Regions from separate parts of the Homo sapiens genome. Here region 2 is linked to region 1. A link means that fine-mapping ties the variant in region 1 to the expression of a gene that starts in the linked region. Tissue or cell type: spleen. Region 1 holds a variant in brackets; the other region holds the start of a gene. All regions are shown on one strand. Distances are between the middles of the regions.

Region 1 (5,142 bases):
AGGCCAGGCCCTCTTGCCTCAAGGCAAGATAACTCGGAAGGTTCACCAGCCGGGGCCTTCCTGGCTACTGCATGGCACTCACTCCTCTCTCTGCCCGTCCCGTGGCTTCTTACCCCCTGGCAGGCACTGTTTGTGAGAGCACTCCCTGAGAAGCCTGCACACAAATCTCCGTCCTCGAGTGTTTTCCTGGGAACCCAACCTGTGACAGTTGGTGCCAGGAAGGATCCTAGGAACAGACTCTAAAATGGGATCTTGGTGCTGCGTCCCCTGCCGGCCAGCTGGCAAGCAGGACCAGGCACATGGCTGTGGCACAGCTGTTCCCACTCGCCCGGCGGAGAGCGGGTGGGGAGCTGGTGGGAGGGATGTGCTGATGGAGGCTGGTCCCGCACACTGTGTCCTGTTACGCCACAGCCGGGAACCAGACCCTGGGTTCAAGTCCGGAGCTGTGATGGCTGCGTCCTCATCAGCAGGAAGCCCTGTCTCCTAAACGCTTTGGTTTCCTGAACTGTGAGGGGGTGAGGCGAGCTGATTGGCCAAGCTGATTCACCGCGGTCCCTTCCAGCTCTAGCATCCTACACAAGCCCGAGAACTAGGGAGAGGGGTTTGGGCGGGATGGGAGCGCCCTGGAGCCAACAGTGTGAATAAGCGAAGGGTAGTGGATGGAGGAGGCTGGAGGAGATCTTCTGGGGCCCACGCTGCCCGAAGCGGCCTGTTTCATCCTGGGCTCAGGCCCTCCCCTTCCTCCCCCGAGCCCTCCCAGGTTCTGATGCTAGGGCACCTGTCGCTGACCCAGCTGGGCCTGGATTTTCGTCTACTTTCCTCAGGATGCCCTTGTCTCCTAGACTTCCCTTTCTTCCTCCTGCGTCTGCCCCAGCCTGGCAGGAGTGTGCACTCAGGACCATTAGCAGTTGGGGAAGCTGGAGAGGACGTTGCTCAGGCACACGTTTGTGGGCTGTGGAGCCCTGAGGAGCCTCTGGGCTGTGGGTGCCTCCCTGCATCCCCTCCCAGCCAGCCCACAGGCAGGCACTCAGGGAAGACGTGGAGGCTCTGAAGGGCTAAGCGACAGCTTGAAGGCCACACAGCTGGTCACAGGGCCACATCCCCCACGTCCACATCCAGGACTGAGTAGCCCCAAGCTGCAGCTCCTTCCGCAGCCTCCTCAGCCTCCTCATTGAGGCCACCTGCGTTGTTCAGAGTTGAGAGGTGACATTGGGACTGTGCTTGGGACAGTGGAAGTTTTACTTTTACTTTTTGTTGTTGTTGTTGTTTTTGAGATGGAGTCTTGCTAAGTCGCCCAGGCTGGAGTGCGGTGGCGCAATCTCGGCTCACTGCAACCTCTGCCTCCCGGGTTCAAGCGATTCTCCTGCCTCAGCCTCCTGAGTAGCTGGGATTATAGGTGCCCGCTACCGCACCCGGCTAGTTTTTGTATTCTTAGTAGAGACAGGGTTTTGCCATGTTGGCCAGGCTGGTCTTGAACTCCTGACCTCAGATGATCCACCTGCCTTGGCCTCCCAAAGTGCTGGGATTATAGGCGTGAGCCACTGTGCCCAGCTCTTTTACTTTGTATTTGCTTGCTTATTTATTCATTCCAAAATGATATTGATTAGATATTTAAAAGGCTTTAAAATTCAAAACAAAGAGTTAAAGAAACTAAAATAAAGTTTAAAGAAAGTAAAAATTACCCCTTAAATTCCACCAACTGGAGCTAGTCACCGTTAACAGTTTGGTGAACAGATTTCCAGACAGCTCTGTGTGTGTGAGTGTGCGTGTGAGTTTGTATGTGAGATTTTATGATAATGGGATTATATACTGTTTCATAACCTGCTCTTTTTACTCAACAATATGCCGTGGAACTCTTTCCACATCGGTAAATGTAGCTGCACCCTTCATTTAACAGCTGTAGACCATCATCCATTGCATTCCACTGGGAATGAAGGTATGAACCGTGTTTCATTTACCCAACCTAATACTGGGCATTTAGGCTGTTTCCAGTATGTCTCTTATTACAAAAAACTGAGGCACGGGCACGATGACACCTCTGTCTTGGCCATTTGTCCAGCTGCTGTCTTAGGTCCATTTCAGCAGGTTGGTCTTCAAGAACAATCCCTACAGCAAGCAGGGGTACTGTGCTGCCTCATTGCAATGGCAGATCCTCATTTTCAGGAAATCCAGGGCTCCTCCCCAAGGGGCCAGGGCAGCAGAATCACACACACGAGGAGACAGCTTTCTCCTCGGGAAGTTCTGTGTGAGAGGCAGAGAGGGGCTCTTGCCCCGAGTCCATATCTAAAGTCGTGACTAGTCGTCCCCATGACAGTCTGCTCGGCTTCCTGCTGGAGTCTGGGGGGCCTGAGGACGGCCTGCAGCTCTGCAGGGGGCTCGGCTTTTCCTCCAGGAGGCAAGTGGGCTAAAGAAACTCGGGCCGAAGGCGGCTGGGAGGCCGAGGGCATCCCGGTGGGAAGGAAGGCTTGGCCTAGTGCCGCTGCTTCTCTGCAGGCCCCAGCACAGGAACTGAGACGGTGGGATCGAAGAAGTCAAGCTCACAGTTGGAAGGGGAGAGACCCACAGCCAGATGACCATAGGGGTGACAATTCTCATGCACTTGGTCAGGGGTGGATAATAAGAAAGGGGGTTGGGAGGCGATGGGGGTAGTTTCTCCATTATCAGACTGTGG[C/T]CTATATATTGGCCGGGTGAGGCCTTTTAAAAAAACACAGACTTACTTTATATTTACGAGCAGTTTAAAGAGCAGGCCAGTTGGGCAGAAGGTACAGAGATTTTTCCATCTACCTCCCGCCCCTACACAGGCACAGCTCTCACTACATCCTTCAGAGTGGTGCGTGTGTCACAATTCACAGCCCTTCCTTTACACAGCGTTGTCACTCAGGGCCCACAGTTGTCCCTCCGTGGATTTGGATTCATGTATCCATAACGACATGTATCCACCATTGTGTACACATTTGTAGTCAGCCTCCCTTTCTTAAAACTATGCCTTGCAGTGAAACTGCAACTCCCCTGCCCCTAACACAGACACACACACGCGCACGCACACACAGACACACGCACACACAGACACACACGCACACGCACACAGACACACACGCACACAGACACACACGCACACAGACACGCACACAGACACACACGCACACGCACACACAGACACACAGACGCACACAGACACGCACGCACACGCACGCACACGCACACATGCACAGAGACATGCACAGACACACATGCACAAACACGCGCAAACACGCAGACACGTGCACACACAAGCACAGACACACACAGACACACGTACACAGACGCACATGCACACACACAAATGCACATGCACACATGCACACACATGCACATGCACACATGCACACACATGCACATAGACACACAGACACAGACACACACGCACATAGACACGCACACAGACACATGCACACACAGACATGCACACACGCGCACATACAGACACAGAGACACACATACACACACAGAGACACACGCAGACACAGACACACACAGACATGCGCACACACACATGCGCGCACACATACAGCACACAGACACATATATGCAGACACGCAGACATGCAGACACACACGCACACACACATGCAGGTGCATGCACATACACACACACACACACACACACACAGTTTTTTGCCAAGGGAAGAGACATAGGTGAATGTATTTTACTGTTTTCAAAGGCAAGCTTTCCTCTCCACCCCTGCAGTGTGTCCCACGGTCACAGATTGGTTTACTGGGGCTACGGTGATTCCATCACAGGCTGGGCTTGGAGTCTGGAGGAGGCCTTCCAAAGAGGGCAGGAAGAGAAGGAGGGAGCAGGCAGAATCCCAGAGGCTTCGTGGTGGAATGTGGCCAATCGTCCTCTTTAACGGAGGCTCACAGGTGCCTCTGTGGAGGGTGACTGTTCTGAGCCGACTCACACTAGCTCGATCATGAAAACATCTGTTGCAGTCTCCAGTTAGTGCCTCTGCCCACAGATGGCCTTTGAAAAGTGCTTTTGGTGCATTCTGCCTCTGAGACAGTAGGCCCCCTCCCTCCCGCCTCCCTAGAAAGCTCACAGAACCGACAGGTGCTGTAAGGAATCCACACCAGGATAGGGCTGTGGCTGGGCCAGGGTGGAGGATGGTGTGGTTTGGGGCAGCCTGCATCTATTTTCTATTGTTTCATTCTTTACTGACAGTACCCTGCTCTTTCCTCTTCCCCAGTCTCAGACCTTGTACTCTGGAGGGGATGGCTCTGCCCCCAGAACCAGGGCTCTGCCACGTGACACAGGCCTAAGCTGGCCCACACATCACAGAGGTTGCCTCATGACCTGGTTGCCACCAGTTAAAAGGGCCTCAGGCTTCTCTCTTGAGGCAGCTCCAACCGGCCATCCCACCTAACTTACAAAACGTGTGGGGCCGGGAACGGGTCTGCAGAGATCCCCTGGGGCTTCTTCCAGGGACAAATGTGAATCCGAAGGTCGAAGTCAAAGAGATACTTAGAAACAATTCCCCTTTGGGATGTTAAAATGCTTCCAACAACTGGACTGAATATTGCAGACCCCTCAAATCCTGTGCTTCAAGGGTTCCTTTTGGCTGAACACTGAGAAGACCCCCAACCCCAGGTGTCACCTGTTCACAAGGTGACTTCCTGCCCCATCCCTGAAACCCTCCACTCATGCCCATCTCGGGAACTTTCAGCTGGGACCAGCTCTGGTTCTTGAATCTGAGCTACAGAAGGGCCTAAGGAGACCCTGGAGGCCTTCTGGGTCACCCCACAGATGAAGGAACAGGGCCCACAGAGCGGCCGTGACTTTCCCTGAGCCACACAAAGCCAAGACAAGAGCCTGGGAGCCCCAAGGGCCCATCTCGGGCTCTTTCCACTGTTACCACTTATATCAATTCAGAATGCAGCCAGCTGAAACAAGAGAAGACAGGAATCAGCTGTCAGGGAGTCTAGACTGTTCCAGGCCTGGGTGCTGCCACCTGAGCCGAACGCTTTTGTCTCTTTGCTCTGCTGTCCTGACCATGCGGTCCTTTTCCTTGTGCTTCTTGCTCCATTTTCCAGCGATCCTGTCCACTTTCCGGGCAGGAAGAGGGAGACGGGCTCCGGGGCAATGGGCTGTGCTAGCTGTTTGTTC
Region 2 (5,142 bases), 35 kb after region 1:
GAAATGTGGCTCAGCCAAGCCTGGCCCAGCTGGCCTGCTCAGCAAAGAACTCGGGACACCTACCAGATGGCCTGGGGCCCCACCCCAAGCCCCAGAGGGCTGTGCTGTCCTTCTCATCTGTCCCAGGAGCCCAACCAGAGCCCAGGGCTCTCCCCCTTTCCCAGGCCAGGGATTCACCTTGTTTTCCTAATAATGTTAAAAAAAAAATACTAATCATTGATTTTGCAGGACTCAGATATCATAGTAAAAAAATCAGATAGCAGAAAACGGTGCGCAGTGACAAGTGAGTCTCCCTCGCTTTCTGTCCCTCCACCCTGCGCCTCTACTGCTACCCTAGGTTTTCTAGCTTTTTTTCTCTAAGGTGGTCTGTGCTTGGGGTTTCTGCCCTCACATGGAGCCTGACCCACAGCCTTGGCCCCAGTGTGGGCCTGTGATTGGATTAGGTCTTGGGGGCATATGGGGGGCAGAGCTGGAATGAAAAGCCAGCTTTCTTTGCACCCACCCAGGAGGGACGCCACTCTCTGGTGGTGCCTCGGAGGATTGTCAGTGTCATTTAGCAGTTCTCAGCAGACCTGCTCTCCTACCCCATGCTCACCCACCTGGGAGTCCAGCCCCTGCTCCTCCTTCCCCAGAAACCACACAAGCCCCATTCTGGAGAGCCCCATGGCAAGATGAGCAAGTAACCGCCTGCGGCCACTGAGGGGCCGCCACCATCTGGGCCCCCTTGGCAGGGGCCTTGTGGAAGGGAAGCCTCTCAGGTGCCTTTCTTTGCTGGCGCCCTCTGAGCAGCGGGTCCTCCTGAGGCTCCCACCTCCTGGCCTGGGCCCGGCGGGAGGCAAGCTGGCCTCGTGGCCAGGGAGACTCGGGAGATCCTATCGGCCGGGCCTGGCAGGGCGAGGTCGGCTCCTTTCCTGGTGAATGGGGCTGTTGTGTGCTCCCTCCTGAGTCACAGCCCTCTTGTCTGGCAGGGTGGAAGGGAGAGGACTCACCGCGATGAGCTGGACGCAGTGGTCGGCGGAGGTGCCCCGGACGCAGAGGAGGGAGGGCTGGATGCCCGCTTCCCGGAAGGCCTCGCTCATGTTGCCGCACTTGTGCTGCTCTGGGTCCGAGGTGGCGCACCACCGCACCTCCATGCCACCGAGCACTGCGGGCAGGGGACCGTGAGGCCCGGCTCCCCCGCCCTGCCCAGCCCCGGCCCACCATGGAGGGTGGCTCCAGCAGTTCTGTGTGAGCCCATTCGCCTGGACAGCCAGTCCTCTAGGGCAGCCCTGCCCTCCCACAGGGAGGCACTAGGCGCAGAGACAGGGGAAGGGCTGGTATTCCTGTGCTCAGGGCCTCTCTGACCAGGAGCACGGCTGCTGGCAAATGGAATGGCTCAGAACCCGGCCCTTTATGGAGGAATGGGAGGGTCTACAGGTCGCTTCTCAGCTACCCCCACCTGGTGGGAGCACTGGCTAGGGAGTCTCGGCAGGCCCTGGAAGTGGAAGCTTCTTCCCCTCTCCAGGCCTCCCGAAGAGGGTGCTCGTGTAGGTTCCCTCACCCAGCAGTGTCCCTGGGCCTTCCTCATGAACTGGGACGGGAGAGTGAGGTGAGGGGGCTGTGGGTGGGCTGCCCTCCAGGAGCCCTGTCCCCTCGGGGAGTGTCTGCGATGATGCTGGCTGCAAAGCCACCCTCGGTGGGCACAGTGCCAGGCCCTGCCAAGGGAAGACGGCAGGCACAGAGGGGAGGCTGAGGACCCATCAGGGTAGGTTCAAGCCTCTCTGAGCCTGCTTCATCTTCTGAGAGAGCAGATAAAAACCCCACCTTCTGTGTTGAAAGTAAACCCCCTTGTAGAGAGCCTGAGACACCCACATCCTCAGTGGACTTCTGCTTATGCCTCAGGATCTGACCGGGTCAGAGTCCCCGAGAGCTCCCAGGCTAGGGGCCCAGAGGAAGGGGTGCTGGAGCCCCTTGGGGCCGATGACTTTCAGGCCTGAGCTCCTCTGCCATTCACCCTGCCCCAGCCAGCACTGCCAGAGGCCTGTGCAGGAGGGAGGGAAACGCATGACTCCGCCCGAAACCAGGTCACCCTCCCGTGGCAGCCCCACCAGCCCAAGGGCCGAGACTGAAGCTTCCGCCACAGCCCTCCCCTCCCCACTCCTGGCGGAGGCCTGGGAAGTCGAACTGCCCTCCCCTCCGCAGCGCTCCAAGCCCCCCACCACCCAGGCGGGAAACTGCAAAGTTCAGACGGGGCGGGGGTGGCGGTGGCTTCATCGTTTGCATTGATGAGTGCGTCGCCTGCGGCCACAGCGGTGCCACGAACTCCATCCCCTCGGCGGTCGCCGCCCGCGATCCCCGCGAGCCGCTCCCCGAGGTCCCGCCTCCCGTCCCACCATCCCGGGCCCTGACTCCCCGGGGCGCCGACGCGAGGGGACCCGGCCTCCGTCTCCACCTCCATCCCTGCATGTGCCAGAAACCCCCGGGCGGACTCCCGCGCCTGCCGGTCAGTCCCTCTGAATCTTCTCCCGCGGGGGCTCGGGAGAAAGAGCTGCTCCGAGCCCCCAAAGTCTTCCTGAGTTCCTGCGCCCGTCGGGAGGGGCCGCCCTCCGGGAGCTCCTCTCCACACCCCGAGGCCTCCCCACCACGCCTCAGCCCGCGCTTCTCCTTGGAGCGTCGGAAGCCTCGGGTGTTCGAGGCCGCCTCCTCCAAGAAGCCTTCCAGACTTCCCCGTCTGCGCTTCAGTGCTAGTTCCCTCCGCCGTCCTCACTCGACCCCGAGCCCCTGCCTCCCCCGTCTCACTGCCCCGGAGCCGCAGGCTCAGGCACATTTCCAGCCCCGGGACCTGCTCAGCCGGGCCGCGGCGCCCCGGGACCCCCGCCCGCCTTTGGCTCTCACAGCGGGGCCTCACCGGTGCGCAGAGCCAGGAGCAGCCACAGAGCCCCGCTCGGACCCCGCATGGCGCCGTCGGGGCTGGCTGGGGCCGGGCTGGGGCTGGGTCCGGGTCCGAGGAGGTCCGCAGCAGCCGGGCTTCCTCCCTGCTCCCCCTCGCGCTGGCCCGAGCTCCTTAAGTGCGGCCGCGAGTTCCCGGGCGGAATCCACGCCCCTGGGGCGCAGGTCACCTCCCGCCGACCCCGGACCCCGCCCCTGGGCGGCCCCGGCGCGCCCCCTGCTGGAGGCCTCCCGCTCGGGCCCGGGCGCCGCTGCTCGGGGCTCTCGCCTCAGCCTCCTACCCCGCGTTCCAGGGTATCCTCCCCTCCTCGCGCCCTAGAAAGACTCCAGATACCGTGTCTAACTGGAGAGAGAAAAGCTCAGACGTGGAAGGAAGGAGAGGTCAGAATCCCAGAGTCGGGGCTGGAGGGCAGCTGGAGGATGATCTCATTCACGCAGCAGCTCCCTCCCAGCACAGCTGCACAGAGGATCTGGGATACGGGGGAGCCCAGGCCGAGCGCCCTGGCGAGGGGGGAGCCGGGCAGGGGCATCTCGGCCACAGCTGCACAGAGGATCTGGGATACGGGGGAGCCCAGGCCGAGCGCCCTGGCGAGGGGGGAGCCGGGCAGGGGCATCTCGGCCACAGCTGCACAGAGGATCTGGGATACGGGGGAGCCCAGGCCGAGCGCCCTGGCGAGGGGGGAGCCGGGCAGGGGCATCTCGGCCACAGCTGCACAGAGGATCTGGGATACGGGGGAGCCCAGGCCGAGCGCCCTGGCGAGGGGGGAGCCGGGCAGGGGCATCTCGGCCTAGCCGACTGCCTCTCCTCGGGCCTAGAGACGGGAGGTGACTTGCCCGAGTCAGGCATCCAGTCAGTGGCAGAGCCAGCTGATTGGAAGGTGAGAAGAGGACCAGAGAGGAATTGGAGGAAGCGGAAAAGGAGAAACAGGCGGAGAAGGGGAGGAAGAGAGTGAAGAAGGTGAGGGAGGAAAGGGTGGGTTGACCGTATTTCTAGGACAGTGGTTCTCAGTGTGGTCCCTAGGCCAGCAACGTGAGCATCACCCTGGAACTTGCTGGAAATGCAAGTGCTCAGGCCCCACCTCCGACCCACTGGATCGACAGCTCTGGGGGCGGGGCCCACAATCTGTTTTTATTTCGGGGCACAGCAAATGTTGAGAACCACTGTCGCAGGCGGGCAAAAGCGGCACTCCCCATGTGGTTGGGGATGCGGGGAATGAACTGAAGACATTGTTAGTCACCTGCCTCCATTTAGGCCTCACCTTTATGTCATCAGCCCCTCTGAGACTCAGAAATGATGTCTCTCTCTGACATGGGTAAGTACAACAGTGAGAGAGAAGACATCCCTCTGAGTTTGTCTGTCCTTGAGCTTGCTCTGCGCCCTGGGGAAGGAAGGCCTCCCTCCTATGGGGCCATGAAGCTACTGCTTATCACACACTGGATCAGGGGAAGGAACATGGGCTGGGCTTCAGGAGACTCGAGCTCTACTTTTTAAAAACCAGCGACTTACAGACCCTGGGCGAGTTCGTCGCCCTCTCTGGGCTTGTTCCCCACATGTAAAAGGTAGGTCATGATGGCCGTGACGTGCCATACTTTCCGTCTCCTGTCTGCTCTGGAGGACTTGTGCTGTGGAAGCTGTTTCTCCATCCCCCCAGATGGATCCCTTCTTCCTAGTTTGCACAAAGGTGCCGAATGGACTAGCAGGCAGCCTTGCTAGAGGGGCTGATGGCTTGTCCTAAGAAGATGGAATAAATAGAAGAGTCCTTAACAAGCCTCGTTCTCCTGACCACGAGGATAGAAAGGCTCAGTTGGCACACTCCAGGAGCCACCAGATGACTGGCAGGATCTGTTTGATGACTAAGTCCTTCCTTTGGCAAAACTCCACGTGACGCTGATAGGGAGTGAGAACAACCATAACCTAAGAGGTTTGCTGGGCTCTTTCACAATGAAGTTCTTCCCTTATCTCTTGGGTGTCATTCAGCTGTGACTCATCAGTGAACTTGCTGCCTCTGGGTTCTCAGGGATTCTACATCGGGCCCGTTGGCCCAGGGTTGGCATGAACGCGCATCACCTTTGTGGAATGGGGAAGTCTGCCTCAGCTTGAGCCAGGATTCTGCCATTTCTGGGGTCCGGACATACTTGGGTGTGCCAGAGAAATGGGTGGGATGTAATGAGAGAGTAATAAGCCAGTAGTTTAACCCACAAACAGCCTTCTGG

Evidence for each region. PIP is the estimated chance that this variant, and not a neighbour inherited with it, causes the effect.
Region 2: it holds the start of MELTF, and the variant in region 1 is fine-mapped to the expression of MELTF in spleen (GTEx, PIP 0.97).

What each region holds. Positions count from the first base shown.
Region 1 is chr3:196,991,853-196,996,994 of GRCh38, forward strand. It overlaps the pseudogene RPSAP30. Among named protein-coding and RNA genes, the nearest start is that of MELTF-AS1, 8.5 kb to the right of the region's middle. The variant C/T (reference allele first, on the strand shown) is at 2,672.
Region 2 is chr3:197,026,767-197,031,908 of GRCh38, forward strand. It overlaps MELTF (melanotransferrin), which reads right to left and starts at 3,051. Exons shown (of 16, transcript NM_005929.6): 1 at 2,888-3,051; 2 at 990-1,144. The coding sequence starts at 2,936. RefSeq lists silencers at 2,314-2,493, 2,684-2,733, 2,784-3,273 and enhancers at 2,807-3,443, 3,444-4,080, 4,468-5,142, 4,772-5,066.